Regions from separate parts of the Homo sapiens genome. Here region 1 is linked to region 2. Evidence: fine-mapped expression QTL. A gene starts in region 2. The other region holds a variant in brackets. All regions are shown on one strand. Distances are from middle to middle.

The links.
Region 1: its variant is fine-mapped to the expression of ZMIZ2 in whole blood (TOPMed, PIP above 0.99).

What each region holds. Positions count from the first base shown.
Region 1 is chr7:44,764,775-44,773,098 of GRCh38, reverse strand. It overlaps ZMIZ2 (zinc finger MIZ-type containing 2), which reads right to left. Exons shown (of 19, transcript NM_031449.4): 15 at 8,090-8,158; 16 at 7,520-7,764; 17 at 6,766-6,935; 18 at 6,436-6,678; 19 at 3,218-5,583. The coding sequence ends at 5,476. Among named protein-coding and RNA genes, the nearest start is that of ZMIZ2, 20 kb to the right of the region's middle. RefSeq lists enhancers at 4,615-4,754, 4,589-5,115. The variant T/C (reference allele first, on the strand shown) is at 3,172.
Region 2 is chr7:44,744,600-44,752,923 of GRCh38, reverse strand. ZMIZ2 (zinc finger MIZ-type containing 2) reads right to left here and starts at 4,077. Exons shown (of 19, transcript NM_031449.4): 1 at 3,933-4,077. RefSeq lists an enhancer at 1,523-1,992 and silencers at 3,773-3,822, 3,833-3,942, 4,053-4,582.

The sequences.
Region 1 (8,324 bases), 20 kb before region 2:
GCGAAGGTTGCAGTGAGCCGAGATCGCGTCACTGCACTCCCACCTGGAGGACAGAGTGAGACTCTGCTTAAAAAAAAAAAATTAGCCAGGCGTGGTGGTGTAAGCCTGTGGCCCCAGCCACCTGGGAGGCTGAGATGAGAGGAGTGCTTATGCCCTGGAGGTCAACGCTGCAGTGAGCTGTGATTGCACCACTGCACTCCACCTGACAGAGTGACACCCCCCCATCTCTAAAAAATAAAAAAAAAAAAGTGGGAAGAACAATCACACCACGGTTTAACTGATCAGCTACGATGGGAACTGTGAAAGGCATTCCACAGAGTGAATCAAGGCTTCAGGAGGAGGCCCTGACTTATCCTGGAGGCAGAGGGTTCTCCCAGGAATGGCGTCTTAGCTGAAGCCTGACCCAGAAGGTAGACGGGCAGGAACGAGGTAATGTGGAGACTGTTGGGAGCAGGCAAGGACTTCATCCCAAGGCAATGGGAGGCCCTCTGTACTCCCTCTTGTGATAACTGCTTCCCTTCTTTCGGGCAGTGCTCCTGACCCCACTCTAGCTGTGTGGGTGGGTCCCTACCTGGTTGAGTCAACCAGATCCCATCCCTGGGATTTTAAACTTGGAACCAGAAGGAGAGTGATCATCACCTCTTTTCTAGGGTGAATCAATGAGAAGTGAGGCTCCGAAGCTTGGATCTCAAGTTCACAGAAGCAGCTGGTTGAGGGTGAAGCTTGCACACAGAGGCCAAGGAAGGATGCCTACCCATGTCCAGCTGCCCCAGGGCCCTTTCAGGACTGCTATTTTGAGCCCCTTCCTTCCTTAACTGGTTTGAATTGGTCACCGTCACTTGCAACCTATTGAGTCCTAGCTAATGTACCATGACAGGGTTCAAGACTTGGTCAGAGAAGAGCTGGGGTATAGGATGCTGGGGAAGGGTACCCATTAATCCTCCCTTCTAAGTGGTAACTGAGAGAATGAACAAGAACAATATACAGTTAAATGAAAATAAAAAGGCACAGTGGCTCAAGCCTATAATCCCAGCACTTTGGGAGGCCGAGGCAGGCAGATCACAAGGTCAGGAGTTCGAGACCAGCCTAACCAACATGGTGAAACCCCATCTCTACTAAAATTACAAGAATTAGCCAGGCGTGATGGCGCGCCACCTGTAATCCCAGCTGCTCAGGAGGCTGAGCAGGAGAATCACTTGAACCCGGGAGGCGGAAGTTGCAGTGAGCTGAGATCATGCCACTGCACTCCAGCCTGGGCGACAGAGCAAGACTCCGTCTTAAAAAAAAAAAAAAAGAAAATAAACACAGACGCTTTAAGGATCAGTTAACAACAAGACACAGACTCTAATATTCACTGACATAAAGTTTCAGAAAGGGCAAAATTAATCTCTGGTGACAGGGGCCAGAACAGTGATGACCTGGGGTGGGGTGTGGGTTGGTCTCTCCTGTGAGGTTTGGAAGGGCAGGTACACACGCGTGTGCACTTACCAAAACCTACTGCACTGTGCATCCGACTGCACTGATGTCCCTGGCTTCTTTGAGGCAACTTGGGTGACAGGCCATCCTGAGCCAGTCATGTCTTGCCCTCCCACTCAGGGCAGGCAGGATGGGCTGTCTCAATGGCCCCCAAAGCCTGGAAGGCTGGAAGGGTGGCAAGGAGGAAACCCACAGTGGGTAGAGTTACAGGGGTCAGAAGTGGGGGCCACTGCCTGCTGGGGAAGGCCACTGGAGGAAGCTGGGGCAGAATGGGAGGGAAGCTGGCCCCTCACATGAATACGGGGAATTAGGAAGTGTTTTCTCCTCCACAATGTTTGGGAGAATTTGGGGATTTATGTCCATTCTTTAGCATTTGGTAGAATTCACCATCTGGTCCTGGGCTTTTCTTTTGTTGGGAAGCTTTTGATGACTGGTTCTACCTATGTGTTTTAGGTTGGTTCAGATTTTTTCCTTTTTCTTCTTTTTTTGAGGTCAGGTCTCTGTCTCTGCCTCATTCCTGGCTGGAGTGCAGTGGTGCTGTCATAGGTCGTTGCAGCTTTGAACTCCTGGGCTCTAGCTATCCTCCTGCTTCAGCCTCCCAAGTAGCTGGGGCTACAGGCACGTGCCATGACACCTGGTTGATTTCTAAAGATTTTGTCGAGGCAGGGTCTCTGTTGCCCAGGCTGGTCTCGAACTCCTGGCCTCAGGCCATCCTCCTAACTAGTTCTCCCCAAGTGCTGGGATCACAGGTGTGAGCCACTGCACCTGGCCCTGTTCAGATTTTCTATTTTTCCTGGGACAATTTTGGTCATTTGTATCTTTCTAGGAATTTTTTTGTTGTTGTTTTGAGACAGAGTCTCACTCTGTCACCCAAGCTGGAGTGCAATGGCATGATCTCAGCTCACTGCAACCTCTGCCTCCTGGGTTCAAGTGATTTTCCTGCCTCAGCCTCGTGAATAGCTGGGATTACAGGTGTGAGCCACCACGCCTGGCTAATTTTTGTGTTTTTAGTAGAGACAGGGTTTCACCACTTTGGCCAGGTTGGTCTCGAACTTCTGACCTCAGGTGATCTGCCTGCCTCGGCCTCCCAAAGTGCCGCGATTACAGGCGTGAGCCACCACACCCAGCCAAGATGTCGCATCTTTTTAAATGTTGGCATTTGCAGCTATAAATTTCCCTCAGAGCAGTTTTTGCCGCATTCCTTAAGTTCTGGTATGTTGTTTTCATCCATCTCTATTTCCTAATTTTTCTCGTGATTTCTCCTTTGACCCTTTGGCTGTTAAAAAGTGTGTTCAATTTCTATGTATGTGTGAATTTTCATTTTCCTTCTGGTATGGATTTCTGGTTTTATTCCATTGTGATTGGAGAAGGTGGTTTGCAGGATTCCGATCTCTAATTTACTGAGACTTGCTTTGTGCACTAACGTGTGGTCTGTCCTGGAGAACGTTCCCTGTGCACTTAGAAACGTGTGTTCTGCTGCTATTGGGTGGAGCACTGTTAAGTCTGGTCAGCCTTTTGGTTTTTATGTAATACTTGGCACATTCACAAGAAAATGTGTGAAACAGAAAGTACGACAAAGTGAAACCCACGAAGCCACCACTGACCCTGAGGTTCAAAACCTCCAGCATCTCTGCTCTTCCCTAAGCACAGCTCCGTCCCCTCCCCACGGGTGAGCACTGTGTTGTACTGACTCCC[T/C]GCCCTCCCTGATGACTTTAGCACCTGGGTATGAATTCCACACATATTTGGTTTTGAGCTTTATAAAAATGGCATCATACTGTATGAACTGTCTTGCTTTTTCATCCCACGTTGTTTCTGAGAGGTGTTTGTGATGGAGCACAGGGCCACGGTGCCCATGCATTCCTCAATCATTTCTCCAGTCTTCTGAGGATGGGCTTCTGGGTTGTTTGCAGCCTTTTGCTTGTCCCAGTCTCCTAGTTTCTCCACTCCATCCGGGAGCATCACGTTTGCAACAGGCAGGGCAGGTGGTGCATCAGATGTCCAGGACACAGTCATTTGACACCCAAGAAAGGAGGGCCTGGGGCCTGCATCAGGCCATGGCTGAGTGGGACTTTGCCAGGCTGTCTCCGCACCCAGCGACAGGACTGTGCGTGCTGCTGCTTCTTTTGTTTCCTCCACTTCTGTTCCCTCATCCAGAGAGGGCGGAAGAGCTGGAAACAGAGGCTTTGTCAGGGAATAAGGAAGCCCACCTGTGTGGTCCCAAATGTCGCAGGGGCAACGCTCACACCAGATACCTCCCTCCTCCTCCTCCCTGCAGCCTCTGGGCTCCCACAGACAGATGCCCTCCTCTAGTGCCTCCAGGGGCAGGCCTTGGCCGCCAGCCTGAGGATGCCCAGCGCTCCCCTCCTCCCCTAGGTTCCTGTGTTCCCCCAGTTCTTGCCTCTCCTGCTGGCTGGCTGGGAAGGCCCTCAAGGATGGGGCCCAGGACTGGAGGAAATGGTGACCCGGACCCCCACCAAGCTGGACAGGCAGATGGTAGGCAGGACACACCTCTGCAATCTCTGGGAAGTGACAAGCAGAGGCCTCCCAGGGACAAGAGCTGAGAAGGATGAGCCCCTGGCTGGGCTGGGGCTGCCAAACAACTGTCTCAGTGCCCCAGGGCAAGCCCAGATAAGGTGACATAGTGGCAAATGTCTCTCCTGGGCAAGCCTGGGATGCTTCACAAAACAGCTCTTCAGCTGAAGCCAACTTGGAAAATTCCAGGGAAAAGGAAATTTACTATGGGGCGGGAATAGCCGAGCCTTGGCTTGAAACATCCAGAGCTCAACCTGGGGCCCCAAAAGCCACTTGAAGGTCGACCTGGCCCCCAGGTCCTGCACAAGCTTTGCAGGCACAGCCCAAGCTTTAGGCAGGTCGCTGGCTTACGAGGAGAAAATAGTCCCTGGGAGCACAAAGGAGGGACTCGGCCAGGCCCACCAAGAGGGAGTCCTTTAATAGAGATCGGCACAGACAGGAGACACAACAGCCCAGGCGCCCTGCTCGCACAGGCTGGGGCCCTGAGCCAACAGATGCAGTGGCTTCCTCCTCCCCCACCTGGGTGTGGGCCCATGGGGTGGAGACAGAGAGGTGGCTTTAAAAAACACAGCTGTACTAATTCTTCACTTTCACAGAGAAGGGGAACTTGGGAGCGCAGCCCGCTAGAGAATCTTTACACAGAGCTGAATCTGAGAGCCCACCCACCCACCTCGGCCAGGCCGAAGCTCACTGTCCCCCACCCATTGGAGGTTCCTCCCTGATCTGTCTGCACATGGGAAGGAGCAGAGCGCGCAGGGAGACCGGGCTGTACAACAGGAACATGCTGGCTGGACAGCTGGCTCCCCTCTCCCAGCTGTTAGTGTTTCTACACTATGTACATTGTTGTGCTTTGTAGCTCCCCCACCCCGAGGCCTCTGCTTGAAGCTGGGGTGGGGAGAGGAACCTGACACCACACACGGCTGGGCTGCCAGAGCTCCAGGCCCCCAAGAGGCTGCCATTCAGCGAGGTTCCAAGAGCTGGACTGCTGGGCACAGGGGCCACTGGAGCCAAAGGCCCAGGGGACAGAGCCAGCCCTGCCAGATGCCCAGCTCTGCCCAGTGGAGGAGTTGTTGAAACAGAAGGATCAATGCTGGACAAGAAGCAGGCTGGGTGGGGGCAGGCAGGGGTGGAAGGACAAGGTGTGAGGCTGTGAGACCAGGGGCGTGAGATGTGTGTGTGGACAAGGCTGGACAGGGCTGGGCAGGGGCACCTCAGCAAAAACCGTTCTGCAGCAGCAGGCTTGGCAGAGGGAGGTGGCAAGGGCTGCCGGCCTGGGAGCCCCTCCCATCGAGCACAGGGCTGCTTCCAATTCAGGGGCAGGGCTGGCGGCAGAAGGCTCTGGCTCCAGGTGTGTTTTGGGGGAGGTTTGGGAAAGACCACCGGGTGTCCCATGGGGCTGGGCATGAAGGGCAGGGCTGTGGTGACATCTGTGAGCGTGTCCCCGCCGGGCTTGGGGTAAACACAGGATCAGTTGTTCTCAAACAGAGAAAGCAGGTCGTCATTGTTGTTCGTAGGGAGGTCGGGTGGGCCCAAGTAGGACAGTAGCTCATCAGGGTTGGTCAGTTCCGGGAGCAGCTGAGGACAAAGTGAACTCTGTTAGCAGCTTTGGTCACTGACTGGCCACACCTGAGTGACCATCCTGTCACCACATCCCGGCCCTGTCTCCAGGCACAGTGGGGATGCTGAGCAGCCCCTCCTCACACACAGGCCGGGTGCGGGGCCCCACCATAGGCCTGCATGTGCTCAAAGAGGCACACGCCACCCCCTGGGACCTCCCTGCAAGGTTGCTCTGGGGCCAGAACAGCTGGCAACATGCTGTTCAATACCACCAGGAAACGGGATGTGAGGGAGTGCAGCCACTCCACACTCCCTCTGTGCATCAGCCTGCGTGGGGATCCCCACCGTGATGCCCCAAGGTGAATGCTGGTGGTGGAATTCCATGCCCCTAGGATTTTCTGCTTGGAGCTGTTCTTCCTAACTTTTTCATGTTGAACTTCTAGAATGAGTTTCATGTTGAACTTCTAGAATGAGTTTCTATTATGGTCCAGGGACAGTCAGTTCTGTCCTTCATGTACTGAGTTTGCACTCCCATTCCACCTGTGAGTCAAGACCCAGGGCTACTGAGCAAATGGACAGACGAAATTTGACTCTAAGGACCGTGCTGTCAGCTTCCAGTGCAGTCTCCTCTGAGACTCTGCGTCCGCCCGTACGGCATCCAGGCCCCTCATGAACACAAATGTGGTACATCGCATCCCACCCGCAGCTACTCCAGGTATCTAATTCATGAACAAAAGCTGCATTTAGTTGACCTTATCTGACCGGCTCTCTGAGGGGTCACTGTCTTCCCTTCCAGAACGCACCTGGAACAGACACACCACCTCTAGCCCTGGCTCCCACGCACTCCCCCGCATGGGGCCTGGTACTCACGTCCAGAGCTGGTTCTGGGGCCTCCCCGGCTCCAGACATGCTGGGGGGCCCCATCACGCCTGTGGCAGGACTGAAGGCCAGTTCACCCGTAGGTCCTAAGCTCGCTTGGCCCAAGGACTGCCGGGACGCTGGGGGAGGGTTTGAATGGTGCAGCTGGGGACCTGGAGGGGCCCCAAGGTTGGAGGTGTGTAGTCCTGGTGTCCCAGGATTGTGAGTGGGGTCCAGGTGACCTGCTGGTGCCATCTGAAGACAGAGAGAAGAATTTGTTAAAACAGCTCAGGGGCTCCCCTGGGGAGACAGGGCCCCTTGGCCTCTCGGCTTGGCACTGACCTGGCTTGGGAGGCAGGCGGTAGACTTCTCTGAAGTCAGGAGGCTGCTGGGAATGTCAGACTGGTAGGAGATGGGGGGTGGTCCCGGGGTGAACTCAGCAAGGGTTGGGGTGCTGGGCGTGGTGGGTGGGAAGGACTCAGGGAAAGTTCCAGGCCCCAGGAAGCTGGAACCTGTGAGAGGAGAGTCGGGGCCTGGGTGAGGGCTGGGGAAGGCCACCGCTGGCAGAGGAGCCAGGAGGGAGGCTGGCTGTGGCATGGGTGGGACTTGCAGTGCTCACCCACAAACAACAGCGGGTTTTGCAGAAGTCGCTATTTGGAAAAGGGCATTTCTTCTCATTGCTGCCAAGGGAATTGGCCTTGGGACATTCCTAGGAGTGAAGGTCTCGGAGGTTATAGGAATGGGAGCAGCCACAAACAAACGCACCACGCGTGTGAGGTGGGTCCCAGAGGGGGGCCCCAGATGGGGCCAGTCCTGTGAGGTGTTCCAGCCAGGAGCCCCTTAATCCAAACGGGGAAGGAAGGGTGGAGGCCCCACTGTCTGTTTCCTGGGACCATAGCTGAGACTGTGCCTTCACCGCCACGTCCCTGAGATGGGAGGGGCTGGAGGTGCCCCGCGGCATGTTTTGTGTGGCAACACTGATAACCTAGGTGTGTGACCTGCATAGCCACATTCTTGCAGGTGAGGAGACTGATCTGGGGAGAGGAGCCATATGCCCAGGGTCATCTGAGGTTCAAGGCTAGCCTGCTGTACTTACCCTGGCCAGGGTAGTCGCTGGGGGCAGGGACTGAGGGGGGCTGCAGGGGGGCAAAGGGGGCAGCGCCGGGGCCCAGGGCGGCGATCATCTCCATCACGCTGGGCATGAGCACGTGGGCGGGGCTCACGGTGCGGCAGCGCTTCAGTGCTGGCCCATCCGGCTCCTCCTTGATGTGCATGTCAGGCTTCACGGGCACTGGCTTCCAGCTGCACGTGGGGTCGATGGTGATCTCCTCATAGTCAGAGCTGGGCAGGGACAGGTGGGGAATGGTTACCTCCTGGCCTGCTGCTGGCCCGGCACCCACTGCCCCTCCCAGCCCTGGGCTGTTTCCAGGCAGGTTCCCCCACTCAAATGCTTGCTTCCACCCAGCACCTTCCACATCGAGCAGGACGCTGGGCCCAGCACCAACACTCAGGTAGGACACACACGCTGTCTCTGGCCTGGAATCCAGCCTGCTCCATGCCGGAAAAAGGCTGGAAGGCTGCACTTGGCAAGGGACATCCCCCGACATGTCCTGGGGCTGCCCTCCAGTGGCCACAGATGCAGGGATCACAGGAAGAGGATGCTTACTTCTGAATGTAAATCAGGATGCCCAGCATGTACTGGTCCACCTCCAGGCCCTCCAGCAAAGCTGTCTTGCTGTGGGGAAAAAAAGGGACACAGCTCAGAGACCTTGCACAACCCTGTCCTGGGCACAGGCCCTGTCATTTCTCAGCCCTGTCAGCTGTGACCCTGCATGAGGCAATCCTGTGTGAGGCAACTGAACAAGGTAACTCTGTGTGAGCTGACCCTATGTGAGGTGACA
Region 2 (8,324 bases):
ATATGGAACTAAGCAAGCAGCTACCCTACTATGACCCAGCAACTGCACTTGTACGCATTTATCTCAGAGAAATGAAAACTTATGTTCACATAAAAACCTGTACACAAATGTTTATAACTGCTTTATTTGCAAGAGCTATGGAATGGAAACAGCCCAGATGTCCTTCAATGGATGAAGAGTTAAATCAACGGTGGTACATCCATAGCCCGGATGCAATATAAAGGAATGAACTACTGATATATGCAACAACCTGGATGAATCTCCAGAGAATTAATGCTCGGTGGAAAAAGCCAATCCCAAGAGGCTACACGGTGTACGATTCCTTTATTTAGCATTCTTGACACACCAAAATTAGGGAAATGGAGAACAGATTGGTGATTGCCAGGGGTTAAATGTGGGGGTAAAGAGAAAGGTACTAATCTCTTCTCCATTTCTGTAATTTTGGCAGGAGGAAGGTGGGCGTGAATATAAGAAGGCAACAGGCTGGGCACGGTGGCTCACGCCTGTAATCCCAGCACTTTGGGAGGCTGAAGTGGGCAGATCATTTGAGGTCAGGAGTTCGAGACCAGCCTGGCCAACATGGTGAAACCCCAACTCTACTAAAAACATAAGAATTAGCTGGGCAAAAACTAACCGGGCGTAGTGGTGGGCGCCTGTAATCCCAGCTACTCAGGAGGCTGAGGCAGGAGAATCATTTGAACCCAGGAGGTGGAGGTTGCAGTGAGCCGATCGCACCATTGCACTCCAGCCTGGGCAGCAAGAGTGAAACTCCATCTCAAAAAAAAAAAATAGAAGGCAACAGGCTGTAACCTCTTTACTGTATCAGTGTAGTGTCCTGGTGCAATGTTGTACTAGTTTTCCAAGATGTTACCATTGGGGCAAACTGGGTAAAGGACAGAATAAATCTCTCTGTGTCATTTCTTATAATGCACATGAATCTTTAATTTTTTTTTTTTCTTTTTGAGATGGAATCTTGCTCTTTCACCGAGGCTGGAGTGCAGTGGCACGATCTAGGCTCACTGCAACCTCCACCTCCCAGGTTCAAGCGATTCTCCTGCCTCAGCCTCCTGAGTAACTGGACTACAGGTGTACACCACCATAGTCCATGCCTGGCTAATTTTTGTATTTTTAGTGGAGATGAAGTTTCGCCATGTTGGCCAGGCTGGTCTTGAACTCTTGACCTCAAGTGATCCACCCACCTCGGCCTCCCAAAGTGCTGGGATTAGAGGTGAGCACCACTGTGTCCAGCCAATAATTTCAAAATAAAAAGTTTAATTACAATACAACTGCTACCACCAGCCTTCTGTCTCCGCAGAACTGCTGTGACAATCTTTCCCCACTAGAAAGCTGGTTGGGTTGGCTGGCCACTTTGCTGTCCCAAGAACAGAGAGGGAATCTGGCAGGCAAGCAGATGTGCCCCCTCCCCCGCCCGTGGTCAAAGGCCTCAAAGTGCAGGCAGCACTCTGTGCAGCACTGCCTCATTTTAGGTCACCTAGGGCAGCAGCTCCCCAACTGCAGCACATCAAAACCAGCTCGCAGCTGGTGATGACAGGCTGCCCAGCCCCACCTGAAGTCAGTAGGATGGGCTGGGGCCTAAGCCCAGAATTTCTAACAAGTTTGCAGCTACTGCTGCTGCTGGTCCAGGAACTGTAGTTTGAGAACCTCAGATCTAGGAAATGCAGTGAGCTGGGGAGAAGGAGCACAGGGCAGGTACAAGGAGGGGAGGAGCCCACAGCAGGCTCCTATGTCACATGAGCCTGGGGAATTCCACCCCTGATGGTTCTCTGCTGTGGACAGAGACCACAAAGATTTCCAGTTCCCTCTGAGCTTACTCTTCACTGCACAGGGGGATTTCCTGCCGACCCGAACTCATGCCTCTGGTCTCCTCTCTGAGGACAGTCTCTCTGAAAAGACTTCCAGTCTCCAGGTCTGGTATCCTTGACCCTGTGCCCCTGATGATAGGATAGTGTTCTGCGTTGTGTGTGTGCAGATCCTCTTCTCATCTCCTGGCTTTGAGTCTGGGTTGGGAACAAGCCTGGAGCCTGGAATCTGGATCCCAGATCATGCAAGGCCCATGCCCACCAAGGGTCTTAGTGCCTGGCGCTTTCCTTGTAAACTAACTCCAGCTGGAAGCTAGGACCCCTTGAGAGATGGACAAGGTCAGTCTAGAGGGCCACAAGGCTTTCTCGGGGGTCAGATCACATCTTCCTCTAGACAGAGTTACAGAACTCACTACCCCAGACCTCTCTTCCCCAAATGTCCCAGAGTAGCTGCACCCCCAAGTCTCCTGGTTGACCTCCTGAGCCTTGTTCCATGCCACCTCTCTGCCTGCCTAGTCAGCTAGGAGCAGGACCAGCAAGTGGGCCCTGTGGCAGGCAACGCTTCTCAATAGGTCACACATCAGGACTCACTGTCTCCAAGATTGCAGGGTCAGGATCCAACCCAGGTGACAATGGAGTCAAAGGGTATTGAAGAAATGATGGCTGTGGAATGTTGCAGGAGCGGGGTCCTTGGTAGCAAAAAGTGGGGTACTCACATATACAGGTAGCTGAAAGTCCTGCCCCCTCTACCTGTAAGGCCACAGTACTAAAATGTCTAAGCGTGGGGCTAAGTCAGGATGCAGAGTTCATCAAAAAGTCCAGGAATAAGCAATGGCCCAGGCATGAGACATTTCAGTGAACAGCTGAAGGGACAACCTTAACCTGGCATCAGTTTACAATGTGTAAGATGGATATCTGGTAGCATCCTAGGACTGAGGACACATGACCACCTTCATGTCATCAGCCCTTGGGAGCTCAATCCCAATAATCAGGATGCTCCCCAAACATCTTAGGCCTGTCCTTCAGAAATCTACAACCGGCAACTGTCACCTGCTTGTTCTCTTCATTTACACTTCCAGCTTGTAACTATCCCCTGGGCATGACAAGGGCTAGAGGTCAGTACCTCTGGAAGTTAAGATTCCTTCACTTCTCCTGTTTCCACACTAAGCATCAAGGGATGCCCTCTGGTTCTAGCTTGCCAGAACTTGGTGGTGAGTCTGTGTCCATCCTATCCGTAATCACCACGGTCTCAGACCAAGTCACATGTTCCGTGTGTGTCCCTGTGAAATCTGCGATGACACAAATTAAAGACACCACCATGGATGTTCTGTAATACTGGAAAGAGGGTACCCTAGGGAGAAGGAGAGGCAGAACACTGCAGGGCAGAGGGTCCAGGGAATGGGAGGAGAGACACGGTAGGTGGAGGGGTAAACAAGGCACCGGGTGGGGGTGCCGCGGTGAAGGACACCTGGCACTAGGGAAGACAAGGCACCTCAGGGGAGCAGGGCATCCTCACGCCTGAGCTTCAGTATGTCCAGTTTGGAAAGGGGTGTCCCCATCAAAACTGGCAGCTGGGGGCTGGCCGCTCAGCGTCGTTCAGCCCAGGAGCGGAACAGCTCCTCCGCGAGCAGGTGACGGCCTCAGACGGCCCCCACATCGCCGTGCTGGTGGGCACGTAAGTAGGAGCGGAGGGGCGTACCATGTAGGTGAGACTGCCTGGCCCCAAAGCTAGGAACGATCAGGTTGGAGCGAAGGCCCGGCCAGCCTTCATCGCTCAGGAGAACCCCGAGCGCCGCTTACACCCCTCGGCCAGCCTCCAACAAAGACTCAGGGGAGGGCTGGATGACCCTGACGCCCACGGGGCCGAGCCTGCCCAAGACCACGACGCACGCGTGGCAGGTGCCGGCAGGTGGGCGGCAGAGCCTCTAGCCCCAGCCCAGCTGTGAACCCTACCGTGGCGCCGCAGCGGAACCGGGGCGCCCCGGGCGACCAGCTACACCTGCCTGCCCGCCCGCACCTGCCGGCCCGCACCTGCCGCACCTGCCTGCCCCCGCCGGCCCACACCTGCCTGCTGGCGGCGTTGCCAGGGGCCACCCCCAGGACCCCGCTCACCTCCGCCCGGCCTGGCCCGGCCCCTCGCCGTGGCGGCCCCCGGCCCGCGCCGCTCCATGCGCTCAGCCCGCCCTCCGCGCCGCCCGCCGCCCCGGGGCCGCCGCCACCCGCGCCATCGCGCCGCCGCCCGCTCCGAGGGCACAATGGAGCCGCCGCCGCGCCGCTCATGCATATGCATGACGCCGCGCAGCCGGCCCCGCCTCCCAGGCCAGAGCAGCAGAGCCCCGAGCCGGCGCTCGGGGCGGGGGCGGCCGCGAGCCCGAGCGGCCCAAAGCGGCAGGGTGGGGCCAGGGCCGCAGGTGGCTGGGCGGGCAGGAGACGCAGCCTGATCGCGACCTGCGCCCCCAGCCCCCTCCACACCTTTCTGAACGCGGCGTCGGCAGAGCCACTGCGCTCTTCCTGCTCGCAGTCCGCCGGGAGCGGGGCGGGGCCGGGCGGCGGAGGCGGGGCCAGGACGCCGGGGCGGGGCCGAGTGGAAGGCGGGGCCAAGGTGCCGGGGCGGGGTCGGGAGGAGGAGGCGGATCCAGAGAGCCGGGGTGGGGCCAGGGCTCGGGGCGGGCCCCGGCGGAGGAGGAAAGGAAGAGTGAGTCCTTGCCCTTCCCCCACCCGCCCCGCCCGCGCCCCGCCCGCGCCCCCCCTGCTTCCTGGGAGTCCATTGCTCTGGCCCGGCGGGCGGGGACACGACTGGGAGACAGAGAGACCCAGGGTGCCACTTTTGGGAGGGGATCTTATTAAAGGACTCCGGAAGCCCCTCGTTAAAGCAGAAAACTAAACTTAACAAGTTCGCTGTCCTCACTGCTCAGTTCTCTCTTCCCAGTGGTTCTCCTTCTGGAAAAAGTCACTATTGAGCTAGTCTAGCCTGATGGAATAGCCTCTCTGATCAGTTTCGATCTTTGAAATGCTATTATCAGCCTTTAAGTTATTCTTGACTTTTCCTACCGTAAGTTGAGGAAGACCACATTCTCTCAACTACCCATAATTAATTTTTCTTAATTGTGGTAAAATACACATAACGTAAAACTTACCATCTTAACTGTTTCCAAGTGTAGTTCTGTGGCACCAAGTACATTCACATTCTTGTGCAACCACCAACCGTCTCCAGGACTTTTTCATCTTCTCAAATGGAAACTCCATACCCAGTAAACACTAGCTCCCCATTCTTTCCTCCTCCTAGCCTTTGGCATTCACTATTCGTCTCTAAATTAGACTACTCTAAGGACATCGTATAAGTGGAATCATACATTATATGTCTTTTTGTGACAGTCTTACTTTAGTTAGCACAGTGTCCTCACTTCCATCCATGTTGTGGCATGTGTCAGAATTTCTTTCTTTCTTTCTTTCTTTCTTTCTTTCTTTCTTTCTTTCTTTCTTTCCTTTCTCTCTCTCTTTCTTTCTTTCTTTCTTTCCTTCCTTCTTTCCTTCCTTCTTCCCTCCCCTTCCCTTCCCTTCTTTTTTTTGACGGAGTCTCACTCTGTCGCCAGGCTGGAGTGCAGTGGTGCAATCTCGGCTCACTGCAACCTCCACCTCCCAGGTTCAAGCGATTCCCCTGCCTCAGCCTCCTGAGTAGCTGAGACTACAGGGGCACGCCACCACGCCTGGCTAATTTTTTTGTGTGTGTGTTTTAGTAGAGACGGGGTTCATCATGTTGGCCAGGATGGAATCGATCTCCTGACCTCGTGATCCGCCTGCCTGGGCCTCCCAAAGTGTTGGGATTACAGGCGTGAGCCACGGCGCCCAGCCCCTTCTTTCTTATGGCTGAATAATATTCCATTGTATGCATATTCCACATTTAAGTTATCCATTCATCTATCAATGGATACTCCACAATTAATTTTTGACATTGTTGAAATTTCTTCCCTGAAGGCCGCCTCTGAACTCTGTGCTCTATTTCTTTTGGGAATCATTCGTTCATTGAACAAATATGGCAGGCCTGCTGTACAACAGTCCCTGGTCTGGGGTCTGTGAACACTGGTCTGTCCCCAGGAACCAGGAGAATAAGGCCCCTCCATCCATACAGCAAGCATGTTAGAGGGGACAAACAGAAGGAAATGAGTTAACAGGTAACAGTGTGTCTGTCAGAAAGAGTGTTAGGAAGAAAACTAAATCAGGGCCAGAGAATGGGGAGGGAGTGATGAGGTATGAGGGACGGATTCTCTGTGGAGCTGGCCCTGAAGAAGAGACCCAAATGAAGGGGGAGGCAGGCACCAGGGGACCCTGACCATTCCTCTGTCTCGGAAGAGGCTGCATGTATGGGGGAGTTGCAGGCAGGTTTGTGGAGGATGCTGGAAGTGGCCACGCCAAGCATCCCAGGTGCCCCCAGGGCAGGCATCTCTCTCACCTCCTAACTGCTTCAATAATTCCTGCCCTGCTCCCCTGGGAAAGGCCACCTGGTGTCCACTCCTTTCTAGGGAATGTTTTCATTTTCTACTATATGATGAATTGTTAAGAAAGTCTTCCTTGAGGCCGGGCACAGTGGCTCACGCCTGTAATCCTAGCACTTTTGGAGGCCAAGATGGGTGGATCACCTGAGATCAGGAGTTCGAGACCAGCCTGGCCAACATGGTGAAACCCTGTCTCTACTAAAAAATACAAAAATTAGCCAGGCATGGTGGCGTGAAACCCTACTCTACTAAAAATACAAAAATTAGCCAGGTGTGGTGGCATGCACCTGTATTCCCAGCTATTCGGGAGGCGGAGGCAGGAGAATCGCTTGAACCCGAGAGGCAGAGGTTGCAGTGAGCTGAGATCGCACCACTGCACTCCACCGTGGGTGACAGAGCGAGACTCTATCCCCCCACCATCACCCCCCCAAAAAAAAAAGTTGCCTGGCGCGGTGGCTCACGCCTGTAATCCCAGCACTTTGGGAGGCCGAGGCAGGCAGATCACGTGAGGTCAGGAGTTCGAGACCAGCCTGGCCAACATGGTGAAACCCTGTCTCTACTAAAAGTACAAAAATTAGCCGGGCATGGTGGTGTGTACCTGTAGTCCCAGCTACTCGGGAGGCTGAGGCAGGAGAATTGCTGAACCCGGGAGGTGGAGGTTGCAGTGAGCCGAGATCACACCACTGCACTCCAGCCTGGACGACAGAGTGAGATTCTGTCTCAAAAAAAAAAAAAAAAGTCTTCCTCATTTACTAGAATAAAAAAACTGCCTTATTGAAGCTTTTCCTCTACAAGTGCATAAAATAAGAATCATCACTTTGTTATTTGACAGCTCTTCAAATATTAAAAGCAACTTCTCAATCCCCCAGTCTTCTGTTGGAGGAATAATGCTCCCAGTTCCTTAAGTGTTAACAGTAACACAATTTTCAGATCCTGTACCAACTGGCCACTCTCCTTTAGACAGGCACCAGTTAGACAATATCGCTTTTAAAATGTGACACCAGAAAGGGAACCTGATATCCTAAATGTAATCAGCCTAGCCCAGCGTCCAGGGGCTCCTGCGAGTCCACAGTCTCCTACAGTTGGTGTGGCCTTAACCTGAATTTGGTTTTTAACCAGTTTGGGTACCCCCAGTTACTATGACTCTTGACTTGCAAAACTAACTTTAAAAAGAAAAAGGTAGGCCGGGCGCAGTGGCTCACGCCTGTAATCCCAGCACTTTGGGAGGCCGAGGTGGGCGGATCACGAGGTCAGGAGATCGAGACCATCCTGGCTAACATGGTGAAACCCTGTCTCTACTAAAAATACAAAACATTAGCCAGGCATGGTGGCGGGCCCTGTAGCCACAGCTACCTGGGAGGCTGAGGCAGGAGAATGGCGTGAACCCAGGAGGTGGAGCTTGCAGTCAGCGAAGATCACGCCACTGCACTCCAGCCTGGGCGACAGAGCGAGACTCCATCTCAAAAAAAAAAAAAAAAGAGAAAGGTGCTGCTGCTCCTTTGCATACAAGCGGTATATTCTCATTGTGGAAAATACAGAGAAATGTTCAAAATACCTTAAAACTGTTCAGAGATAATTCCAGTCAATTGTTTGCTCTGTTTTTTTCCCAGATGGTTCTCTTTGCATATCTTGATGTTGTGGAGAATATGGCATATGTATGATTTTGCATTCTTATTTTTTCACATTATCAACATAAACATTTCCCTTACAAGCATTATCTGTGTTTCTCACAAAATAAATACTTCAAAGATTTATTTACAAGGATGTTTGCTGTGACATTAGGATATTGAAAAATTACACACAAGCTGTATTCATTCATTCAACAATTTTCTGTTGAGCTTCTACTGTGTGCCAGATACCACTCTCAGTGCTGGAAACATGGCAGTAAGTAAAACTGATGAAAATCTGCATTGTCGTGGAGCTTGTGTTAGCAAGCTAATAGTTACATCCTAGTAGGTAATAGTTAAGTAGAACGCACCCACAGGTTGGAAATCATGTTTTTGAAGAATAT